7 linked regions of the Homo sapiens genome follow. The protein of the gene in region 1 purifies or fractionates together with the protein of each later gene. This does not show direct contact. Each region holds a gene or a part of one and is shown in the gene's direction. Other genes may lie near its edges. The genes, in order: WDHD1, SF3A3, NCAPG, CAPRIN1, CLSPN, ACTR1A and DDX23.

Region 1 (3,500 bases):
AATAAAATCTTATTTTATATTTTGGCATATACAGTATTTGTTTACATGTCAGTCCCTATACTCCCATCCCATCCCCAGACTACAAGGCATTTGAAATAAGGACTGGGTCTTATTGTGTAAATATAAATACAATTCTCATAAATACATTTACTAATTATTCTTATCTGTTCAGTGAGTTTGCTGCTTGGTAGAATTTATAGGTGCATATTAAAAGTTTACCTTTTTAGTAATTGAGTTTTTCTAAATCATTCACTTTTACTTTATAATTTGTATTAATTTGTTCAAGGTATCTAGCAGAGTGGAAAAGGATTATAATGATCTTTTTGATGGAGATGATATGAGTAATGCTGGTGATTTTCTAAATGACAATGCAGTTGAGATCCCTTCTTTTTCAAAAGGGATTATAAATGATGATGAGGATGATGAAGACCTCATGATGGCTTCAGGTCGTCCTAGACAGCGAAGTCACATCCTAGAAGATGATGAAAACTCAGTTGGTAAGAATTTGACTTTGTGCATGTGATTACCCTGTTGATTAATATTTTAGATTTTTTATTAACACTATTAAAGTCATTATTGAATTTGTAGAATGTAGCTAAGTGGTGCTTAGAGGAAATTTTATAGCATTAAATGACTTTGTTAAAAAAGGTTTCAAATCTATAATCCAAGCTTCTGCTATGGCAGACTAGAAAAAGAGAAAACTAAACCCCAAGCAAATGGAAGGAAATAATACAGAGCAAAATTCAATAAAATTGACAACAGAAAACCTATAGAGAAAGTCAATGAGACCAAAAGCTGGTTCTTTGACAAGATCAATAAGGCCGGGCACGGTGGCTCACGTCTATAATCCCAGCACTTTGGGAGGCTGAAATGGGCAGATCACTTGAGGTCAGGAGTTCAAGACCAGCCTGGCCAACATGGTAAAACCCTGTCTCTACAAAAATACAAAAATTAGCTGGGTGTGGTGGCACGTGCCTGTAATCCCAGCTACTCAGGAGACTGAGGCAGGAAACTCACTTGAACCCAGGAGGTGGAGGTTGCAGTGAGCCGAGATCGCGTCAACTGCATGCCAGCATGGGCAACAGAGCAAGACTCCATCTCCAAAGAAAAGAAAAGATCAATAAAATTAATAAATATCTATCGTGGTTGATCAATAAAGAGAAGACACAAATTACTAACATAGAGAATGAAAGAGAGGTGGGCCATCACTATAGATCTGTAGATTTGTGCTATCCAATATATAGTAGCCACTAGCCACATGTAGCTGTTGAGCACTTGAAATGTGGTTAGTTCAAACTGAGATATGTTATGAGTGCAACCGGATTTTTTTTTTTTTTTTGAGGCGGAGTCTCACTCTGTCACCCAGGCTGGAGTGCGGTGGTGTGATTTTGGCTCACTGCAACCTCCGCCTCCTGGATTCAAGTGATTCTTGTGCCTCAGCCTCCTGAGTAGCTGGGATTACAGGCATGCGCCACCACGCCTGGCTAATTTTTGTATTTTTAGTAGAGATGGGGTTTCACCATGGAGTGCAACCAGATTTTGAAGACAATATGAAAAAAAGAATGTAAAAATCTTGGGAAATTTTTTATATTGAGTACATGTTGAAATGATAATATGTATTTTAAATGCACTATATTATTAAGATTATGGCTGTTTCTTTTTACTCTTTAAACTTTAGAAATATTAGAAAATTTAAAATTACAGCTGTAACTCACATTATATGTCTGTATGGCAGTGCTACTATTAATATCAAAGGCATAATGGCAATATTATGAATAACTTTGTGCCCATAAATTTAACAACTTAAATGAAATAGACGAATTTTCTGAAAGACACAAAGTACCACTGCTAACTCAAGAAGTAATAGATAACCTGAATAGTATTGTATCTATTAAAGAAATTGAGATTGTAATTTAAAATCTTCAAATAGAGTGCTTATTGTAACAACTTACATGCTACAATAACACTTGAACATTATCAAGTAAAATGAAGAAATTGAGATTGTAATTGAAAATCTTCAAATAGAGTGCTTATTGTAACAACTTACATGCTACAATAACACTTGAACATTATCAAGTAAAATGCCAATGTGCAGTGCTATGTTGTGCTTTTTAAAGTCATATAGAGTTTATAGAACAGCAGTCCTCAAATGTTTTGGTCTCAGTAGCCTTTATACTCTAAAAAATTTTGAGGACCCTTCCGAGAGCATTTATTTATACAGAGTTACGGCTATCGTCATTTACATATTAGAAATTAAAATTCAGAAATTTAAAAATATTTATTCACTTAAAAATAACATTAATAAACTCATGTAAACATGAATAGTACTTTTTTATGAAAAACAAAAAAAATTAGTGAGAAGAGTGGCATTGCAATCTTTGTAATGTCTATCATAGAGGATAGCTGGATTCTCTCATCTACTTTTCTGGATTAAGTCTATTGCTATACATTGTTTTTGTTTGAAGTGTATAAAGAAAATTTGGCCTCACATAAATATGTAATTTGAAAAGGGAGAAGTATTTTAAGAAATCTTTTAATAGCACATTCAATTAATTGTGGATATTCTTTGATGTTGCACCAAGACTCAGAAGATGATCGTTTCCTAAAGATTACTTGCAAAGTGTAATCTGAAAACTTCAGTGAACTCTTACGGCTCTGTTATGTTAAGATTCATTGGTCTGGCTGGGAATGGTGGCTCTCACCTGTAATCCCAGCACTTTGGGAGGCCCAGGCAGGAGGATTGCTTGAGGCCAGGAGTTCAAGACCAGCCAGGGCAACATAGTGAGACCTCCTCTCTACAAAAAAACTTTAAAAATTAGCCAGGTGTGGTGACGTGTGCCTGTAATCCCACCTACTTGGGAGGCTGAGGTAGGAGGATCTCTTGAGCCCGAGAGGTCGAGGCTGCAGTGAGCCATGATTGCAACAGTGGGCTCCAGGCAGGGTAACAGAACGAGACCCTGTCTCAGAAAAAAACAAAATAAAATCAAAAAATTCATTGGTCTGACTTGAATGTTGAATGGATTTTTTAAAATCATGTTTAATTTTGTAACATATGAATTGATAATATTGGTTCACTGAAGTTTATAGATCCTCTTTATACTGACACTTTTTATTATCTAATATAAATTATTTGTTTTTGTTTTTAATTAATTATATGTTGTTTTTAATTAATTAATTTTTGTTTTTAGAGATAGCATCTTGCTCTGTCACCTAGGCTGGAGTGCAGTGGTATCATCACACCTCACTGTAACCTTGAACTCCTGGGCTTAAGCAGTTCTCCCACTCAGCCTTCCGGGTAGCTAGGACTACAGATGCATGCCACCATGCCCATCTAATTTTTTATTTTTTGTAGAGATGGAATCTTGCTTTGTTGCCCAGGCTGGTCTTGAAATCCTGGCCTCAAGTGATATTCCCTCCCCAGCCTCCCAAAGTGCTGCAATTACAAGCGTGAGTCACAGCACCTGGCTGTAAATTATATCTGCTAGTGTTGTTACCAATCT
Region 2 (3,500 bases), on another chromosome or scaffold:
CTTATCAGATCATATGTTAGGAATCTACATTCTCACTTCTAGGGATAAACATGAGTTTTTCCTGAACTCTCCAGGGAGAGAATGTGGACAAACCTTAGCTTCATCCTAAACCTGGTGGGGTTTTTTTGTTTTTTGTTTTGTTTTGTTTTGTTTTGTTTTTTGGGAGACAAAGTCTCCATCTGGCTTCTAGGCTGAAGTACAGTGGCATGATCATACCTCACTGCTGCAGCCTCAACCTTGTGGGCTCAAGAGATCTTCCCACCTTAGACTCCTGAGTAGCTGGGACCACAGGCACATGCCATCATGCCCAGCTAATTCAGATAATTTTTTGTAGAGACAAGATTTCACCATGTTTCCCTGCCTGGTCTCTAACTCCTGAACTCAAGCAATTCACCTATCTTGGCCTCCCAAAATGCTGAGATTACAGGTGTGAGCCACCACACCTGGCCTAAACCTGGATCTTAATAAATACCATATTGTTCTTTCCAGAAAGAGACAAGCAGTGCCCTGACCCATGCTGGAGCCCATCTTGACCTCTCTGCATTCTCCTCCTGGGAGGTATGTTTCCTTCAGCAGTAGTAGTGTTCTCTCTGTCTATTTTTCTGTCTTTAAAGACTGCTCTCCTGTCTTTAATACCATGGTTGTGTTGTGATAAGGCACTATTTCTTGAGATCAAGCATCTACAAAGAAAGTAGCAAGGCAAAAAGAAAAAAATTACTACTTGGGAAACTGAAATAATTATTCTAACTACATTAAGCCGTAGTAAAGTAAATGGAACACTATCAGTATGGTTAAGTCTGAAGATAACTATAGATTCAGTCCTCTGGAGAGTTTAGACTTACTGCTAGATTGGCTGTGAAATGTGTGGTCCTGCCACAGCCTCAGGAACACCCACCCTCTGGCCTGCATTTGGGGTTTCCCAAAAATCTGTTAATGTAATATTGTAATTTTTCTCTTCTTTGTATAGGAGTTGGCTTCTCTGGGTTTGGACAGATTGAAATCTGCTCTCTTAGCTTTAGGCTTGAAATGTGGCGGGTAAGGAATAGTTTTTCTATCAAAACTATCGATTTACTGTGTGTTTGCACAGTCTTCTAAGTAGCTCTGATTCCATTTTTTTTGTTGCTCCACACTGCAAAAATAAGCCAGCCTGTGTGGTAAAGTAACCCTAAAATCCTTTGCCGTCCTGTCTCCTTAGGACCCTAGAAGAGCGAGCCCAGAGACTATTCAGTACCAAAGGAAAGTCCCTGGAGTCACTTGATACCTCTTTGTTTGCCAAAAATCCCAAGTCAAAGGGCACCAAGCGGTGAGTGGCTGGGGTAGCACTGCTGCTTGTGGCTTTTAAATGTTATTCCCATGCAGAATTTTTAACCACAGTGGAGACTTTAAAGCCTGCTTTATCTCCGTTATTGGTTGACAGAGATCCAGTCTGCTCTTTATCTCTGCTAATAGCAGAGAGTACTATCACTGTTAATATAAACCAAGGACCGTCTGTATTCATCTGATTGAGAGCACATCAAGTTTCTAAATTTGAAACCATATTCATGGCACCTTTAATAGGTTATGGAGGCTAAAAGGCTAAATAGGTTCAAAACCTATTTTTCTAAGCTTATTTTTGGTAAAGTTGAATCTAATTCTTGAGCTACATACTTATACAAGGTATTTTCTTTTTTCTTTTTTTTTTTTTTTGAGACAGTCTCACTCTGTTGCCCAAGCTGGAGTGCAGTGGTGCAATCTCAGCTCACTGGAACGTCCACCTCCTGGGTTCAAAAGATTTTCCTGCCTCAGCCTCCTGAGTAGCTGGGACTACAGGCACGCACCACCACACATGGCTGATTTTTTGTATTTTTAGTAGAGATGGGGTTTCATCATGTTAGCCAGGCTGGTCTGCAACTCCTGAGCTTAAGTGATCCACCTGCCTTGGCCTCCCAAAGTGCTGCGATTATAGGCGCGAGCCACCGTGCCCGACCCAGGGTTGTTTTTTTTGTTTGTTTGTTTTTTTCTTTTTTGAGATGGAATCTCGCTCTGTTGCCCAGGCTGGAGTGCAGTGGCACAATCTCGGCTCACTGCAAACTCCGCCTTCTGGGTTCAAGTGATTCTGCTGCCTCAGCCTCCCGAGTAGCTGGGATTACAGATGTGCAACACCACATTGGCTAATTTTTGTGTGTTTTTTGTTTGTTTGTTTTTGAGACGGAGTCTTCCTCTGTCACCCAGGCTCAAGTGCAGTGGCGCAATCTCGGCTCGCTGCAACCTCCACCGCCCTGCTTGAAGCGATTTTCCTGCCTCACTCTCCCGAGTAGCTGAGATTACCAGAGTGCGCCACCATGCCTGGCTAGTTTTTGTATTTTTAGTAGAGACGGGGTTTCACCATGTTGGCCAGGCTGGTCATGAACTCCTGACCTCAGGTGATCCACCTGCCTCAGCCTCCCACAGTGGTGGGATTACAGGCATGTGAGCCACCGTGCCCAGCTAATTTTTGTATTTTTAGTAGAGAGAGGGTTTCACCATGTTGGCGAGGTTGGTCACAAACTCCCAACCTCAAGTGATCGCCAGCCTCAGCCTCCCAAAATGCTGGGATTACAGGCATGAGCCACCGAGCCTGGCCCAGTATTTTCTTAATGTACGTTTTTTTCTAATTCTCACAACAACCCAGAAAATTAGTTGTTATCCTGAGTTTTTGCAGATAAGGACTCAGAAAAGTTATGGAATGTGTCCACTCTCTCATAGTTCTAAGTAGCAGAGTCAGGATTTGGGCCTAGGTCTACCTGCTGCAGAGCTTGCTCTTATATACCACATTTCCTTTGTAGATTATAATGATGGAAATGTAAGCGGTCTTGATGTGTCCTTCATCTTCTAAGTGAGGTCATAGAGGAAGCCTCCATGCATTCTGAGAAATACCCTCAGTATTTGTCAGAGAGTCCTGAGATGAACAGAGCATTTGCTTTCATAGCATCGTATTTCTCATGTGCTTATAATTTTTAATGCAGTTGTGCAATAAATGTTCCCAGATATAGGGAACAAAACAATGGATGAGAGAATCCTTGAGTGAAACAGCTTGTTTCTTTTTCTCAGAGACACTGAAAGGAACAAAGACATTGCTTTTCTAGAAGCCCAGATCTATGAATATGTAGAGATTCTCGGGGTAAGTGACTGACTGCTGAAAGTGGAAAATGGTATAAAGCACAGGAGTTAAAGGGAGAGGAACTCACAGAAGATACTTTTTCATTAGGTTCAAAAGAGGAGTGGATAGCTGATAAACTAGTATGGCACAAAATAGAGGTCAGGGTACAAGGCTCTTCAGTAAGTTCCTATTCTGTTGTTAGATGATACTCCCAAAGTTGCCCAATTCCCATAAAGCCAGTCATGGAGAATAGAGTCCCCTCACAATATAATGTCCAGAATAGTGCAGATTCTGTGCCTGAGCTTTAGAAAATACTCAGGAGTAGCCCACAAAGCAGACACTCAAAGGGCAAGTAACAGAAAGGCTACTCAAAGTGGCCTTT
Region 3 (3,500 bases), on another chromosome or scaffold:
CTTTTCCTGATCAGCCAATTCCAATATACAAGTGGTTCTGAAAGGAAAGTCCTTCCTTATGCTATTATTATTTATGCATTGTCTACCCAAAGGAAGAATAAAAGGATATTCCATTTTTCTGTGTTTAACTCCTACAGAGCTGAACAAGAGAAGGGTTGAGGATTTTAGGCAGAGAATTTAAGTGTCTCATCTTAAGCACCATAATTCATATTTCTGTTTTTCAAACATTATATGAGGGATAATTTACTTTCACTGTCTGTGTGCCTATTTCCCTTCCATTCAAATAATTTCATTTTGTAGTCAGATATATTGTTTTGTTTTGTTTTTTTCTAAAATTGTCTAGCAAACAGAATGTGTGCTATTTCTACCAGTATGTTTTTGCTCCATTATTCAATATATGGTGGATACTACTTGGAGTTTTATATAGAATTTTGATACTATTTGCTGATATATCAAACATATATTAAAGCATGTACTCTGAACTTACAGGTTACAGAAATTATCTCAGAGATTCGGGCGCCCATTGTTACTGTTGGTGTTAATAACGATCCAGCTGATGTAAGAAAGAAAGAACTCAAGGTAAGTCTCTTTTAAATGAAAGAAGTGCTTGAGTGTAATGTAGCTGGGCAAGTCTATTCTTTCCTCTTGCTGTGCAGTTCTGAAATGTTTCTCACATAATCAAATTATTGTTTAATTGTTAAACTATAAGAATATTTAAAATGTTACCACATATGTCAGTCTCAGAGATATGCAGATCTCTGTGTCAGGAAAACTACAAGTTTGCATATGCCTGACTCATTAAATTCTGGGCAGTTGAGATATTAAATAATACTCCTGAGTTGCTACAGATATTCATATTAACAGTTTTTGTTCAGTGTTGAAACAATTTATATCTTCCCTTAGATGGCTGAAATAAAAGTTAAGCTTATCGAAGCCAAAGAAGCTTTGGAAAATTGCATTACCTTACAGGATTTTAATCGGGCATCAGAATTAAAAGAAGAAATAAAAGCATTAGAAGATGCCAGAATAAACCTTTTGAAAGAGACAGAGCAACTTGAAATTAAAGAAGTCCACATAGAGAAGGTACAGGTAACTTTTTTCATACTAAATCTCAGGTGTTATTAATCATCTCAACTAAATCTTATTTTCTCTAACTTCTAGAATTGCCAAAATATATTTACTTTGAGCACTTTGTAATAGTGACATGAATTAAAATGAAAAAAGTTTTTCCCTGTTTCTATTTTTGGACTTTGAAAGGCCTTAATTAACTTTAATTATTGGAGGTAGGACTTTATTTGCTTCCTTGTCATGCTAATCTCTAGAATCCGAAGTCTTTCTTACCAGGGAAGCTAGCTTTCCAGTGGTTCACATCTGAGTTTTCTGTTTTTTGTCTTGAATGGTTTAAAAAAGGAAAATACATCCATTTTCCTCTTATTTGTGGAGGATCAATGACCTTTCTTTTTTATTGCTAGCAAAATAATTTCTATGGTAACGTGCATTTTTTTAAAGCTAAATTACTTTTGTGTTTTTAGAAAAAGCTACGCAGCTTTGTTATTTTTAATGAAATACTGAAATATGTCTAGTAACATTTAAAGCTTGCTTTTCAGTAGTTCGTTTTTTAAAAAATTAGTTTGTTAAAGTACTCTCTTAAATGGAGTATGTCTTTCCTTCTGAAAGAAATTTTTTGTTAATGGTATCGATACCATTCTGTCTTACAACAAATGATAAATATGTAAACATAAGATAGGTATCAATTAATATTTGATATTAACTTTAATTTCTTTTGGGATCTTGCCTTTTGTAATGAACATCATTTATTGTTGTACTTTTGGGATGTGCTGATTATTCTCATAAAAAGAATGCTAAATAGGAGACTCTTTTATATAGGAGAGTTTCATGAGTTATGTTTCTGATCTCTTTAGCCATAGACATCCCAACTCCAACACCCACCTTCCCAGAGTGTATGCCTGAATTTTATTTTGATAGCTGGTGGCTTCTTTTATTTGACGAAGTCTGTGGGCCATTATAGGCTATTAAATTTGGAAAGCAAATTTAAAGCAAAAACTGAAAATATCATCTGAAAAATGACAAACTTTAGGTCAAAATTATAAAATTAGCAAAAGTAGTCTATCATGGTTAATATCGTCTGTTTAACTTGACTTGCTTTGACCATTTATGTGTCTATTTGTCCTGTTCGAGGGCTACAAATCTGTTAAAATGCAACTACAACAGAGCATAATAAATGCTATGGTCAGGGAAGTATAGAGGTTTTATGGAGAGGTTTCTAGTGCTGGTAGAGTATTGTTGGCTTCCCCAGAGGAAGACATGTTTTATCCTGAGATTAGAATAAAAATAACAATATAATCTAACAGTCAGAGGATACTTTTTCTGTGGTAGTCACAGCATTAATTACTTCACAAATGTGAATTCATTCTTTTCTTCCTATAGGCCTATGAGGTTGGTACTATTATTATCTTCATTTTACAAAGGGCAAGTAACTTGCCCAAAATCACACAGATAGTAAATGGTGGAGGCAGGATTTAAACCCAAGAAGTGGCTCTAGACTTGTGCTTTTAACTCACTCTGTGCTGTCTCTCCTCAATGAATTATGGAAGGAATGTTGTAGACAGATGGAGCAACATCTGTGATGGTCCAGAAGTTAAAGAATGCCTATTATGTTTTAAAACTTCAGGTCCATGTGACTAGAGAATTGATGGGGAGAAGCAGGAGAAAAATCTGGGGAAAAATTAAGGGCTAGGTCATGTAAGGCTTTGCGTAAGCAATATTAAAAATTTTGTATTCTAAGGATTGTGGTGAACCACTAGTATTTTAAGTGGTTAGGTAAGTCTTATGTCTCAGATCACTGTTGTTTAGGAAATGGATTGGAGAGTAGTAAAAGCTTAGACAGGCATAATAGTTGGGAGACTTACAGTAGGGTTGGGAGACTTACAGATGATGGTAGTCTGAACAAGATAATGACAGTGGATTTGGAAAGTAGTGATGAACTTGAGAGGTATTTAGAAATTAGTAACGGAGAAAAGGGAGTCAGGAATGTATCTTAAGTCTTTTGGTTTAGACAACTGGGTAGATGGTGATGACAGTATGAAGATAGAGAACAAGGAAGAGGAGAGATTTGTGTAATGATGAGTTCCCTTTTGGACATGTTGAGTTTGAGGAAACTGTGGAACATCAAGAGGAAATGTCTTTTAGCAGTTATATATATGAATCTGAAACTTAGAAAATAGCTGGGCTAGCTCATAGATGATAAACGAGGTTGTCAGGTTTTTTTTTTTTTGAGGTGATAATTAGGCAAGATGAAGATTAGACTTTTTTTTTTTTTTTTTTGAGACAACGTCTCCCTCTGTTGCCCAGGCTGGAGTGCAGTGGCATGATCTCAGCTCACTGCAACCTCCACCTCCCGTGTTCAAGCCATTCTCGTGCCTCGGCCTCCCAAGTAGCTGGGACCACAGGTGTGCACCACCACACTAATTTTTGTGTTT
Region 4 (3,500 bases), on another chromosome or scaffold:
AAAATTTTAATGCAGTAAGCAAGCCTGCTGATCTGGCTGCTACTTGAGTTTTTGATTCTTTAGAATTTCTTGGAAATGTTTTTTTCTAGGACAGTAATTGAACATAAAATATTAATGATTGTGAACATTAATAATGTGTTAATACTAATTATGAACATTAATGATTAGTGATATAAAGTGTAGAGACATTAATGACTGAAAGATAACTCCTCAGAGAAGTTAATATAAAGGTAGGTGCTGATTGGCAGCCAATTTAGTTGTGAGGTGGCTGTTAGAATCTAGTGTTCAAGTACTTCTGAAAAAAAAATATAAATCTAGTTTATAAGCCCCTCCTGAGGACTTGAACCATGACTGGTCATTAAATGTGTATAGGTGTATGTGAATTACTATACTCTGTCATACCCTACCCTCAAGTGATTTTGTTATTTTATTTTTATTTTTTGAGATGAATCTCTGTTGCCCAGGCTGGAGTGCCCAGGCTGGAGTGCGGTAGGATGATCTTGGCTTCCTGCAACCTCCACCTCCCGGGTTCAAGTGATCCTCCCGCTTCAGCCTCCTAAGTAGCTGTGATTACAAGTGTGCGCCACCACCCCAGGCAATTTTTTTTTCTTTGAGAAGTCTCGCTCTTGTCCGCCAGGCTGGAGTGCGACGATGTGATCTCGGTTCACTGCAACCTCCGCCTCCTGGGTTCAAGCGATTCTCCTGCCTCGGCCCCCCGCCCAGAGTAGCTGGGGTTACAGGCACCTGCCACCACGCCCAACTAATTTTTGTATTTTTAGTAGAGACAGGTTTTACCTTGTTGGTCAGGTTGGTCTAGAACTCCTGACCTCAGGTGATCCAGCCGCCTCGGCCTCCCAGAGTGCTGGGATTACAGGTGTGAGCCACCATGCCGGGCCTCCCCTAAAGTCATAAAGGAGAAAATAATGTAATTATTACATAGGTTATTAACTAGGCTAATACATACTGAAAGATTGCCGTGTTAATAATGGAGATTCAACAAACTGCACAAAGTAACTTTTTTTTCTGTCTTCTCAGTGTTTTAAGTGGTAGATAGCAGCAAAAAGGTCAAGTTACAGTTAAGTCTTGAGACTTTGATAAGCCACAGACTGAACTCTACCTACATGTTAAGTAGTTAAGTTGGCAGTATTGATGTTGACTTAATTGCTATTAAAACTATATCTTTTGCCCTTTGAAAAACCCAGGGCATTTGGATTTGCCCTAAATTTAAGCACATCTGGTTTTTAGTTTAAATCCTTTTTATATTTAGATGATTTACTTGTGAGAAGACTTAACTGTTTTTAAGTATAAGTGAGCATTTCTAATGCACTAAAATAGGATTGCTTTACAAATCAGTTTTGAATTCCTCTTTAGAAACCCTTGTGGAGTAAAGTGAGGTACTATTTACAATTAGATTTGTTTTGACTTCAGTCCATTTAGCAACTTACATTTGAGCTTTATTTCAATCTTGACCTATTCTTATCGGAGCCTTCTGGACCAAAATGCTTTTTTTATGGATTTTAAAATCAAATATCCTGGCAAAAATGACTATGGATATGTAGTATTGCTTAAATTAAAACAGAGAATTGAAATAATTTTATTGTACTTTAAAAAACAAAGTTGTTTATTTCCTAATAATTTGAGCCATTAAAGAAAAAGCTAAGCATCTGCTCATTGAGAATGCATGCTCTTAATGTTGATGAAATATGATCGTGTTATGTAATGCAACTAAAAGGCTTGGTGGGTTTTTAAATTCAGGCTTATAAAGAGTACATGAATGTTTAGCAAAGAGAAGAAATACAGCTGTGATAATCAAGTGTAAAATCCATTTGCAAATCTTACAGGTAATATTGAATTGAATGATTAACTGCCTAGTTTTCTTTATCAGTTCATTGGTGCTGAACTGGGCCCTAGGCTATGCAAGATATTTCAAAACCAAGTCTTAATTTTAACTGAAGAGAGACCTCATTTGATATTATTAGATGTAATCAGTTGTGATATAGAATAAAGGATGTTTTAATAGATGACATTTAAAATTGTTATATTCTTTGTGAATATAATAGGTTTAGACTCTAGTGACTTTGGTAGGTGAAAGATTAACTAATGATCACTTGCGTAAAATGCAAAAATAGCCTGACAGCTTTTTAACCACTAAGTGACCAAAACTGATAGCCAGAAGTGTAGTGTTTTTAATACTTTTTCCTGAAGGCTTTCTGCACTTCATCTTTGCAGTTAGTAGTATTCTTTAAAAAGAATGCTGTTGTTGTGAGGGTAACATTTCTTTCTAGAACGTTGCAGTGTGTCTGTGCTTAGAATTTTCATTGCAGCTGTTGTGCAGAACTTATGTGTTCAGTGTTTTAAAATAAAAACATTCTTAACTATTTTATAAGTAAAATCTTTCCTTGAGGCTATTACCTGAAGCCTTCTTTGACATTTAAGATCTCTTGATGTGTTTGCTTTTCCATGGGTTGCAAGAACTATTCTTCTGCAATGCAGAGGGCAAGATTATTTTGCATTCACCTTGTCATAGAAAAAAGCTGTAATGCTTAATTTGTTTCCCTTTGCTTGACTGTGTGTGTTTGTATGTGTAGCACTGGGAAGTATTTAAAGCTGTGAATTCCCCCAAGTGATAATGGGTACCTTTTTCTAGGGTGAGAGTCGAAGCCTAAGTATTACATTGAGAATGTATTGTTTTAACGTGGCCAAATTAGTGTACTCTAGGATACTACCCATGTGGCAGATATTTGAGAATGCATTTTGTGTGACTTACAGATTAAGCATACAATTTGCCAAAATTTTATGTAATTAATTTCCTAGTTTACATTTAGGGCTAGATGAAGACTAGTACTGTTTCATCTTTTAGAAAAACTAACACTTTTCCTTTAGTAAAAGTGTTAATTTTTGCAATACTTTTGCAAAAGGTTAAACTTATAGCAATTTTGTCATAGCTATAATCTTACACTGTTATAAAATTTAGAGGATTTTTAATTTTTATTTATTATCATTATTTGAGACAGTTTTGCTCTCGTTGCCCAGGCTGGAGTGTAATGGCATGACCTCGGCTCACTACAACCTCCCCCTCCCAGGTTCAAGCTATTCTCCTGCCTTAGCCTCCTGAGTAGCTGGGATTACAGGCGCCCGCCACCACGCCCGGCTAATTTTTTATATTTTTAGTAGAGATGGGATTTCACCATGTTGGCCAGGCTGGTCTCAAAACGCCTGACCTGAAGTGATCCACCCACTTCAGCCTCCAAAGTGTTGGGATTATAGGCATGAGCCACCATGTCCGGCCTAAGAGTTTTTTTTTAGAGCTTAAACCACCTTAGAATTTAGTCCAGTTCATTTTATAGAAGACAAAATTGAGATGTTTATATGGAATGACTTAGGTTGGAATGGGTGATTTCCAAAATTCTCGCAGTTTTTTTTGAAACAGAATCTTGCTCTGTCGCCCAGGACTGGAGTGCAGTGGTGCAATCTCAGCTCACTGCAACCTCTGCCTCCTG
Region 5 (3,500 bases), on another chromosome or scaffold:
CTAGCAAACTGGGTAAGTAGTGATTCTTGTGCAGAACTTAACATTTCTTTTGTCCCTCAGCTTTGATATTTAAGGACTGCAGTACGGTAAGTTTCCATGTTTTTAAATCTGGTCACTTCCCAGTTTCATATGTAGCTATGAAAAGGGTTTATGAATTAGAATATTTTTCTTGGTCTATTTTTTGCAGTTTATTTATAGTAGACCATGGTACATAATGTCCTTAGTGAATGTGTGTTGATTGAGTGAGCAATGAAATGTTTCTGTATGTAGATCAAAGGAAGACGTATAATTGATTGGACAATGAAGAGTGTGATCATAGGCATTAGGAAGGATAAGAGAAAGAAGAGAACTTTCGGCCAGGCGCAGTGACTCACGCCTGTAATCCCAGCACTTTGGGAGGCTGAGGCAGGCGGATCATGAGGTCAGGAGATCGAGACCAGCCTGGCTAACATGGTGAAACCCTGTCTCTACTAAAAATATAAAAAATTAGCCAGGTGTGGTGGCACGCGCCTGTAGTCCCAGCTACTTGGGAGGGTGAGGCAGGAGAATCGCTTGAACCTGGGAGGCGGAGGTTGCAGTGAGCCGAATTCACGCCACTACACTCCAGCTGGGGTGACAGAGCGAGACTGTCTCAAAAAAAAAAAAAAAAAAAAAAAAAGAACTTTCAAGTGTCACTTAGCTCAGAGTAATAAGCCCTGATTATATAATGCTATCTTAGTACTGTAATTTACCTTTAACTTAATGTTTTGGAACATATAACTTGAGGGGTTTGCCTATGAATTTTATCTGACAGTTTCATCCTCAACTCTTTTTCCTAAACAAATCCACCTTATTTCTGTAATCATGTGCTTAAAAGGTGTTTCTCTTTCTTTAGATGAGGATGATTCATGTTCATTGCTAACAAAGGAGAGCAGCCACAATAGCAGCTTTGAGCTGATTGGCTCCACGATTCCATCCTATCAGCCTTGCAACAGACAAACAGGCCGTGGGACCAGTTTTTTCCCTACAGCAGGAGGATTCAGATCTCCTTCCCCTGGGCTATTTCGAGCCAGTTTGGTCAGCTCAGCTTCTAAGGTAAGATGGTAATGGTTTTTCTAATCTCCTCCTCTCTTTGCTTCCCACATTGCTAAATAAAGTTTGTCCCAGCCAACCAACTCCCACCACGTTGGTACTGAGCTTATGTGTGTTCAGTTTAAAAAATCCACCCCCTTTGTGTATTAAAAACAAGCTTCATCCAGTATTCTTACTTTCTTGGAGGTATTTTTCTTTATGCTTCTCATGGCTGTGTATTGTCCCCCTCAACTACAATTTCCTGAGAGTAGCTTAAATATTGCAAATAGCAACTTTTGTGGTTGTCATGACAATGACTGACATTTGTAAAATGTTTTGTTATTGTTTGTTTTTGTTTGTGTGCCAGAGTTCAGGGAAACTGTCTGAGCCTTCACTTCCCATAGAGGATTCCCAGGATCTGTATAACGCCTCCCCAGAGCCTAAGACACTTTTCCTAGGAGCAGGAGACTTCCAGTTCTGTTTAGAAGATGACACTCAGAGCCAACTGTTGGATGCAGATGGGTAGGTAGTTTTGTGTTTCTGTGGGCGGGAATGGTGCTGGGTACTGCTTAATTTTGTTTAAAAATAAGTGAGCTTCTGTCACTCCATCTGTGCTTTCTCTTCTGAGAAAGAGAAGGTGTACAGACCATTAGTATTACATTCTATAAGTTTGAACAAAGTCTGTCCAGAAAATAAACATAAATAGCTCTTGCTAACATTCTGGTCCTTCAATTTCTGTCTTATTTGAAATGCATAGATCTTGTATTGTAAGGTCATCAAATTTCCCTGTATCCATCCTGCTATGTTATTATTGTTGGGTAAGGTTGAGAATTCACAGACTGGTGGCACATTACAGGACATAATGCCAAGCCCTGCTCTAGCATCATCTGAAGCTAAAAGTTATCCTTTACACTTTACCTTCTGAGTAACATTTTATTCTTTCACAAAACTTTTCCCTCCCTCTTTAGATTAACACAAGCCTAAAGTTTGAATCTTTTGCTTTCTGGTTTGAGATTCAGCTTTTAACTGGTGTAGGAAATGAATTCAGAGGTTTTTCACCCCCTACTTTGCCATTTCTCTGAGGAATTTTTTTTTATTTTTTTTTTTGAGGCAGAGTCTTGCTCTGTCGCCCAGGCTGGAGTGCAGTGGCGCGATCTCGGCTCACTGCAAGCTCCACCTCCTGGGTTCACGCCCTTCTCCTGCCTCAGCCTCCCGAATAGCTGGGACTACAGGCGCCCACCACCACGCCCGGCTAATTTTTTGTATTTTTAGTAGAGACGGGGTTTCACCATGTTAGCCAGGATGGTCTTGATCTCCTGACCTCGTGATCCGCCCGCCTCGGCCTCCCGAAGTGCTGGGATTACAGGCGTGAGCTACCGCACCCGGCCCTCTCTGAGGAATTTTTTACACTATTCGTTGTGCTCATTGGTTCTTAGGTTCTTAAATGTTAGAAACCACAGGAATCAGTACCAAGCTTTGAAGCCTCGATTGCCATTGGCCAGTATGGATGAGAATGCCATGGATGCCAACATGGATGAGCTGTTGGATTTGTGTACTGGAAAGTTCACATCTCAGGCTGAAAAACATCTACCCAGGAAGAGTGACAAGAAAGAGAACATGGAGGAACTTCTGAACCTTTGTTCAGGAAAATTCACTTCTCAGGGTAAATATCCAACCGAGAGTATCAAGCTTACCACACCCAAGTATCAGTGCCCTTGAAAAGAATTCCCTGGGCGGGTGGGGTGGCTCATGCCTGTAATCCTAGAACTTTGGGAGGCTAAGTTGGATGGATCGCTTGAGCTCAGAAGTTTGAGACCAGCCTGGGCAACATGGCAAATCCCCATCTCTACGAAAAAAAAAAAAAAAATTAGCCAGGCATGGTGGCACGTGCCTGTGGTCCTAGCTACTTGGGAGGCTGAGGTGGGAGGATCTCTTGAGCCTGGGAGATGAAGGTTGCAGTGAGCTGAGATCACACCAGTGCACTCCAGCCTGGGTGGCAGAGACCCTGCATAAAAATAGAAAAAAAGAAAGAAAGAAAAGAAGCCCCTTACCCTCAGGTGAAAAGTTCACAGAAAACAGGGCTGTGATGGAATCTGTGTATAAACTGAATTCACTGCTTAGTGCCCTGATATTTAGAACTCTTACTTTCTTAGAGTGGTAAAGTATCAACTTAAGACTACTTTAGGCCGGGCGCAGTGGCTCACGCCTGTAATCCCAGCACTTTGGGAGGCCAAGGCGGGGGATTTCCTGAGCTCAGGAGTTCGCCACCAGCCTGGGCAGCACGGTGAAACCCCGTCTCTACTAAAATACAAAAAATTATCTGGGCATGGTGGCCCGTGCCTGTAATCGCAGCTACTTGGGAGGCTGAGACAGGAGAACTGCTTGAACCCCGGAGGTGGAGGTTGCAGTGAGCCGAGATTGTGCCACTGCACTCCAGCCTGGGCAACAGA
Region 6 (3,500 bases), on another chromosome or scaffold:
ATGTACATCTATACATCCTTCCTGTGTTCTGTCATGAAATGAAAAATGATGGTCCTCCTCACTGTCTTTTCTAGTGTGGGCCGACCCAAGCACGTTCGTGTCATGGCAGGAGCCCTTGAAGGCGACATCTTCATTGGCCCCAAAGCTGAGGTAATTCCCAGGCCTACAGAACAAGCCTTAAGCCAGCAGAGGACCTTCATTATTCACCACATGGAACATGTCCCAACATTTGGACATACCCATAAGTAAAAGGGGCAACTTTCTCTGAAAATCTCCTTTTTGATTCTCTCATCCTAGGCTTAGGTGGTTTATTTTTCCCAGGAACAGCCTGTGGTCTTGGAGAAGAAAATACCTGGGACCTCACTTTGGGACACACTGAGACCAGTCTAGGAAACAGGGCTGTTGTCTTCTGCATCCTGTCACTGCCTTGTCAGTGATCAAATTTACTGTGTTTATTATTTTTTTCACAAAAAATATTCAGTGGGGAGATCCTGGCTGGGGTACCCTAGGGATGAGTTAATTCACACAGCTTTGTCAGAGCCCTCATGCAGCCTCTTGTAAGCAGATAGCAGAATCGCTGTTGCCATCCTTGGCTTCAAGTGCTGAGGCCCAGAGGTGGGAGCCAGGAGATTGTGTCCTGGAACCAGGCAATGAGGAAGATGCCTCCTGCCACTTGCCCTAGAGGCACCTGAGGGGCCATGGAAATGCAGAAGCCCCTGCTTTGCCGGCTCCTCGGGAATGAGGGCAGTTTGCAGCAAACAGTATTTAGCCTTGGAGAATGAGTGCCCACCCTTAGCCCTGGGCAAGGACAGCAGGGTGGAAGCTCAGGAAGCTGAGGCTTCTTTGCAAGGGATTCAGCTTGCACTGCTTAGTCTTGGGAGAACAGGGTCCTGGGTGGAGCCTGACTGCAGTCGTAAGTCCTGTTCTCTTTTCCCAGGAGCACCGAGGGCTGCTTTCAATCCGCTATCCCATGGAGCATGGCATCGTCAAGGATTGGAACGACATGGAACGCATTTGGCAATATGTCTATTCTAAGGACCAGCTGCAGACTTTCTCAGAGGAGGTGAGGATCCTGTGTGTAGGGCACTCCTGTAGGGTATGCAAAGCTGTGTCAAACTCCTACCCTAGAGATGATGAGGAGGACGATGATCACTGCCAAGAGTGCTGGAGCCATTTGATTTTCAGGCATATTCAGATTTAATCTTAACACCATTCCTATGAGATATAGGTAGTATTATCTCATTTTACAAACAAGGGAACAAGTTCAGAAAAGCCAAGTCGTGGCCGGGCGCGGTGGCTCACACCTGTAATCCCAGCACTTTGGGAGGCCGAGGCGGGTGGATCACGAGGTCAGGAGATCGAGACCATCCTGGCTAACACGGTGAAACCCTGTCTCCACTAAAAATACAAAAAATTCTCCGGGCGTGGTGGCGGGCGCCTGTAGTCCCAGCTACTCCGGAGGCTGAGGCAGGAGAATGGCGTGAACCCGGGAGGCGGAGCTTGCAGTGAGCCGAGATTGCGCCACTGTGCTCCAGCCTGGGTGACAGAGTGAGACTCCGTCCCAAAAAAAAAAAAAAAAAAGAAAAGCCAAGTGGTATTTCCAAGGTCACCAAGTGAACAAAGGGTAGAGATGGAATTCAAACCTATGTCTTTTAGAATTCAAAGCCTGTGCTCATTAACTTCTTTCACCCAGACTGGAGTGCAATAGCTCACTGCAGCCTCGACCTCCTGGGCTCAAGTAATCCTCCCATCTCAGCCCCACCCCCCACCATGCCCGGCTAATTTTGTGTGTGTGTGTGTGGTGGGGTTTTGCTCTTGTTGGCCAGGCTGGAGTGCAATGGCGTGATCTAGGCTCACTGCAACCTCTGCCTCCCGGATTCAAATGATTCTCCTGCCTCAGCTTCCCAAGTAGCTGGGATTACAGCATGAGCCATGGCACCTGGCAAATTTTGTATTTTTTGTAGAGACAAGGTTTTGCCATGTTGCCCAGGCTGGTCTCGAACTCCTGGGTTCAGGCAATCTATCCGCCTCCACCTCTCAAAGTGCTGGGATTACAGGCGTGAGCCACCTTGTGCAGCCTGTGCTTATTAACTTGTAAGGAAGTAACTCTCCATTCAAAAATGTAAAGGGAGGCTGGTCACTGTGGGTCATGCCTGTAATCCCAGCACTTTGGGTGGATCTCTTGAGCTCAGGAGTTTGAGACCAAGTTGGGCAGCATGGCGAAACACCACCTCTACTAAAAATATGAAAAAAAAAAAAATAGCCGGGTACAGTGGTGCGTGCCTGTAGTCCCAGCTACTTGAAATGATGAGGTGGGAGGACTGCTTGAGCCTGGGGGCATCGAGGTTGCAGTAAGCCAAGATCGCACCACTGAACTCGCAGCCTGGTGACAGAGTGAGACCTTGTCTCAAAAAAAAAAAAAGAAAGAAAGAAAATGCAGAGAGGTGCAGACTAGGTGTATCAATTTCCAGGTGCAGGTGGGATGTTTTCAGTTTTGGGTTTTTTTTGTTTGCTTTTTTGAGATGGAGTTTCGCTCTTGTGGCCTAGGCTAGAGTGCAATGGCGCAATCTCGGCTCACCGCAACCTCTGCCTCCCAGGTTCAAGCGATTCTCCTGCCTGAGCCTTCCTGAGTAGCTGGGATTACAGGCATGCACCACCACCAAGCCCGGCTAATTTTGTATTTTTAGTAGAGACGGGGTTTCTCCATGTTGGTCAGGCTGGTCTCGAACTCCCGACCTCAGATGATCCGCACGCCTCAGCCTCCCAAGGTGCTGGGATTACAGGTGTGAGCCACCACGCCCGGCTGTTTTCAGACAGTTTTTTTAAAGCAGTGGTCCCCAACCTTTCTGGCACCAGGGACTAGTTTCTTGGAAGACAGTTTTTCCATGGGGGTGGGGGTTTGGGGTGGCCAGATAGTTTCAGGATGAAGCTGTTCCACCTCTGATCATCAGGCATTCAATTCTCATAAGGAGTGCCCAACCTAGATCCCTCACATGCGCAGTTCACAGTAGGGTTCACACTCCTATGAGAATCTAGTGCCTTGGATGATCTGATGGGAGGTGGAGCTCAGACAATAATGCTCGCTTACCTGCCATTCACCTCCTGCTGTGCAGCCTGGTTCCTAACAGGTCACAGACTAGAACTGGTCTGCGGCAGGAATTTAGAGTTTCACAAAATCTTCTTGACAGTTGGAGATACACAGTAGACACAGGGGCCTGTATAACAATCTTGGAGGACAAGGAGGGGAGTTGGGGGGCACAGCTGAGGACAGAATGAAATTTTAAAGTGGGCATTAACTTGAAAAGTTGAGAAAACTACTTGGGCAGGGATAGTTGACAGGCACAGCTTGCCTTTTTTTGGAGTGAGGCTGACTGAAGTCCCCGGGCTCTCAAACCAGCAAGGCAGGGTCTTCTCCCCTAAGACTAATGAAGATGGAAATCTGGCCTTGGCCTCATTGTCTCCCGGGCTCCTTTCACCAGCATCCTGTGCTCCTGACTGAG
Region 7 (3,500 bases), on another chromosome or scaffold:
TGGCCAGGCTTGTCTTGAACTCCTGACCTCGTGATCCGCCCATCTCGGCCTCCCAAAGTGCTAGGATTACAGGCACAAGCCACCGCACTCGGCCACATTTTTTTTTTTTTTTTAAAGGTAAGGTCTTGCTCGTTTGCCCAGGCTAAAGTACAGTGGTGCAATCACAGCTCACTGTAACCTCAAACTCCTGGGCTCATATGATTTTCCTGCCTCAGCCTCCTGAGTAGCTGGGACTATATGCACATGCCATCATGTCTGGCTGAGTTTTTTTATTTTTGTAGAAACAAGGTCTGCTATGTTGCCCAGGCTGGTCTTGAACTCATGGCCTCAAGCGGTCCTCCCATCTAGGTCTCATAAAACACTGGGATTACAGGCATGTGCCACCACGTCCAGCCTGAAAAAACATATGAATTCTGTAGGGGACATAGTTCAGTCCATAACCGAGTCCAAGGCCTATTTGTGTTTTCCTCAACAGGCTTAATGCCTGAGCAAATACTTTTGGGTTCCCTGCCATCTCCCCATCAGTGATGTGATTGTACCCTGCTCCCAGATCCTTTGTTGACAGTTCCAATCTCTTTTGTAGCCCAAGTTCCTCTCTAAAGCAGAACGAGAGGCTGAAGCTCTAAAGCGACGGCAGCAGGAGGTGGAAGAGCGGCAGAGGATGCTTGAAGAAGAGAGGAAGAAAAGGAAACAGTTCCAAGACTTGGGCAGGAAGATGTTGGGTTTGTTATTCTACCCTGTGTAGCCCCTAGATGGAAGAGGAAAGAGTGGGATGAGATACAGTGTCTCTTAGGAGAGATAGAAACCTGTTCACTCTGGAGTTTGGAAAGGGGAAGGATGGTGGGAGTTTATGAGAAAACATTTTTCTGTTAGATCTCCATTTACCCCATATCATAAGTCTACCCCTTTTTTTCTTCATTTGGGGTTCCTCGTCTGGATTCCCTCCATTCCCTCTCCTCTTTTCTTCCATGAGCTCTTCTGCAGCTTTGCTTTCTTTGGTCTGCAGAAGATCCTCAGGAACGGGAACGTCGGGAACGCAGGGAGAGGATGGAACGGGAGACCAATGGAAATGAGGATGAGGAAGGGCGGCAGAAGATCCGGGAAGAGAAGGATAAGAGCAAGGAACTGCATGCCATTAAGGTGCAGGCCTTGGCTCCATCTTCACTTCTCTCCCACACAAAAATGAGGTTTAGTTATTTGGCCATTGTGATCTCTGCATGTGAGAATTGGGCCTCAAAGCTCATGTGCTTTGTGTTCTGTCCCTGGGTAGGAGCGTTACCTGGGTGGCATCAAAAAGCGGCGCCGAACGAGACATCTCAATGACCGGAAATTTGTTTTTGAGTGGGATGCATCTGAGGACACATCCATTGACTACAACCCCCTGTGAGTGGCTTCAGGCCTGAGTTCTAGGTCTTTTCCACTAGGCAGTCCTAGAGAGCTGATGACTACGGAGGTGGAGGAAGTAAGATAAGCTGGGATGGAAAATTGGTAGACTGGTAGTCAGCCAGCCCTCTGGTGGAAGAAAGACCCTGTCTGGGAAGAACTGTTTCATACTAGTAGTCTGCCCTTCCTTCCTACTGCCGTTAACAGCTCCTTCTTTTTTCTTTTCCTCTATCTCAATCCCAGGTACAAAGAACGGCACCAGGTGCAGTTGTTAGGGCGAGGCTTCATTGCAGGCATTGACCTCAAGCAGCAGAAGCGAGAGCAGTCACGTTTCTATGGAGACCTAATGGAGAAGAGGCGAACCCTGGAAGAAAAGGAGCAGGAGGAGTGAGTGATCAAGGCTAGGGTGGCTGGACAGAGCCCAGAGGCTCTACAGAAAGGAGTTGGAGGGCACTGATTCTACTTACTCCTCACACCCTGCTCCAGGGCAAGACTCCGCAAACTTCGTAAGAAGGAAGCCAAGCAGCGCTGGGATGATCGTCATTGGTCTCAGAAAAAGTTAGATGAGATGACGGACAGGGACTGGCGGATCTTCCGTGAGGACTACAGCATCACCACCAAAGGTGGCAAGATCCCCAATCCCATCCGATCCTGGAAAGACTCTTCTCTGCCCCCACACATCTTGGAGGTCATTGATAAGTGTGGCTACAAGGTAAGGAGGGATAGATTGGCCCAAGAGATCTGACATGTTCCTACACTAGTTTGGGAATAGAGAACTTTGTTCCTTGACTATTTGGAGCCATCGCTGCTAGTGGGCACCAATGTGACCTTTTCTGTCACTTTCTGGTAGAAGTGTTGGCTTTTAGTGATTAGGTTTCTTCTTGGGGTCCCTATTTCTGTGAACTGTACTTGGCATCCTTCCATTGTGCTAGCAGATGTGCTTACTACTATCAGTGGTTGCCCAGGTGGTATAACTCTCCCTGTACCTATTACTCTTTCTTGGGGTCACTGCAGGAACCAACACCTATACAGCGTCAGGCAATTCCCATTGGGCTACAGAATCGTGACATCATTGGTGTGGCTGAGACTGGCAGTGGCAAGACAGCAGCCTTCCTCATCCCTCTGCTGGTCTGGATCACCACACTTCCCAAAATTGACAGGTGAGGTCAGCTAGCACCAGCTGGAGTGGGTTTGTCTGGGTAGGAAAGGTGAAAGTGGCAAATGAATGTTTGATTTTTGTTTTACGTCTATAATCAGAAGCTTTCTTCTTTATTCTTTGTTGGATATTAGGGAATAATTGGATCATGATATCGAAGAAGTATATGTTGCTGGCAAAGACCTGGAGAACTTTGCTATCCTGGAGTCTCTGATTTATTTTATTTATTTTTTTGAGGCAGAGTCTCACTCTGTCACCCAGGCTGGAGTGCAGTGGCACGATCTCAGCTCACTACAACTTTTGCCTCCCAGGTTCAGGTGATTCTCCTGCTTCATCCTCCTGAGTAGCTGGGGATTACAGGCGTGTGCCACCACTTCTAGCTAATTTTTGGTTTTTTGTTTTGTTTTGTTTTTTGAGACGGAGTTTCGCTCTTGTTGCCCAGGCTGGAGTGCAATGGCGCAATCTCGGCTCACTGCAACCTCCTCCTCCCAGGTTCAAGTGATTCTCCTCCCTCAGCCTCCCAAGTAGCTGGGATTATAGGTGCCCGTCACCATGCCCGGCTAATTTTTTTGTATTTTTAGTAGAGACGGGGTCTCAATGTTGGTCAGGCTGGTCTCTAACTCCTGACCTCAAGTGATCTGCCTGCCTCAGCCTCCCAAAGTGTTGGAATTACAGGCGTGAGCCAGTGTGCCTGTCCTTAATTTTTACATTTTTAGTAGAGATGAGGTTTCACCATGTTGGCCAGGCTGGTCTCAAACTCCCGATCTCAACTGATCTGCCTGCCTTGGCCTCCCAAAGTGCTGGGATTACAGGCGTGAACCACTGCACCTGGCTGAATCTCTGATTTTTATGTATTTATTATTTATTTATTTATTTATTTTTTGAGATGGAGTCTCGCTCTATTGTCTAGGCTGGAGTGCAGTGGTGTGATCTTGGCTTACAGCAACCGTTGCCTCCCAGG

What was found.
Region 2: the proteins of WDHD1 (region 1) and SF3A3 fractionate together in Homo sapiens (co-fractionation; one large-scale study listed by BioGRID). This does not show direct contact.
Region 3: the proteins of WDHD1 (region 1) and NCAPG fractionate together in Homo sapiens (co-fractionation; one large-scale study listed by BioGRID). This does not show direct contact.
Region 4: the proteins of WDHD1 (region 1) and CAPRIN1 fractionate together in Homo sapiens (co-fractionation; one large-scale study listed by BioGRID). This does not show direct contact.
Region 5: the proteins of WDHD1 (region 1) and CLSPN purify together in Homo sapiens (affinity purification with western blotting; one study listed by BioGRID). This does not show direct contact.
Region 6: the proteins of WDHD1 (region 1) and ACTR1A fractionate together in Homo sapiens (co-fractionation; one large-scale study listed by BioGRID). This does not show direct contact.
Region 7: the proteins of WDHD1 (region 1) and DDX23 fractionate together in Homo sapiens (co-fractionation; one large-scale study listed by BioGRID). This does not show direct contact.

What each region holds. Positions count from the first base shown.
Region 1 is NC_000014.9:54,992,600-54,996,099, reverse strand, and holds part of WDHD1 (WD repeat and HMG-box DNA-binding protein 1), read left to right. Parts: intron 1-286; coding exon 287-497; intron 498-3,500. UniProt on the Homo sapiens protein: Core replisome component that acts as a replication initiation factor. Binds directly to the CMG complex and functions as a hub to recruit additional proteins to the replication fork.
Region 2 is NC_000001.11:37,976,523-37,980,022, reverse strand, and holds part of SF3A3 (splicing factor 3A subunit 3), read left to right. Parts: intron 1-489; coding exon 490-558; intron 559-967; coding exon 968-1,035; intron 1,036-1,195; coding exon 1,196-1,303; intron 1,304-3,069; coding exon 3,070-3,139; intron 3,140-3,500. UniProt on the Homo sapiens protein: Component of the 17S U2 SnRNP complex of the spliceosome, a large ribonucleoprotein complex that removes introns from transcribed pre-mRNAs.
Region 3 is NC_000004.12:17,824,479-17,827,978, forward strand, and holds part of NCAPG (condensin complex subunit 3), read left to right. Parts: intron 1-489; coding exon 490-579; intron 580-903; coding exon 904-1,083; coding exon of another isoform or gene 1,084-1,089; intron 1,090-3,500. UniProt on the Homo sapiens protein: Regulatory subunit of the condensin complex, a complex required for conversion of interphase chromatin into mitotic-like condense chromosomes.
Region 4 is NC_000011.10:34,054,731-34,058,230, forward strand, and holds part of CAPRIN1 (caprin-1), read left to right. Parts: intron 1-3,500. UniProt on the Homo sapiens protein: mRNA-binding protein that acts as a regulator of mRNAs transport, translation and/or stability, and which is involved in neurogenesis, synaptic plasticity in neurons and cell proliferation and migration in multiple cell types.
Region 5 is NC_000001.11:35,745,979-35,749,478, reverse strand, and holds part of CLSPN (claspin), read left to right. Parts: coding exon 1-12; intron 13-874; coding exon 875-1,074; intron 1,075-1,417; coding exon 1,418-1,572; intron 1,573-2,486; coding exon 2,487-2,713; intron 2,714-3,500.
Region 6 is NC_000010.11:102,485,713-102,489,212, reverse strand, and holds part of ACTR1A (alpha-centractin), read left to right. Parts: intron 1-74; coding exon 75-150; intron 151-937; coding exon 938-1,063; intron 1,064-3,479; coding exon 3,480-3,500. UniProt on the Homo sapiens protein: Part of the ACTR1A/ACTB filament around which the dynactin complex is built. The dynactin multiprotein complex activates the molecular motor dynein for ultra-processive transport along microtubules.
Region 7 is NC_000012.12:48,835,164-48,838,663, reverse strand, and holds part of DDX23 (probable ATP-dependent RNA helicase DDX23), read left to right. Parts: intron 1-583; coding exon 584-722; intron 723-1,006; coding exon 1,007-1,140; intron 1,141-1,270; coding exon 1,271-1,383; intron 1,384-1,626; coding exon 1,627-1,770; intron 1,771-1,869; coding exon 1,870-2,095; intron 2,096-2,397; coding exon 2,398-2,543; intron 2,544-3,500. UniProt on the Homo sapiens protein: Involved in pre-mRNA splicing and its phosphorylated form (by SRPK2) is required for spliceosomal B complex formation.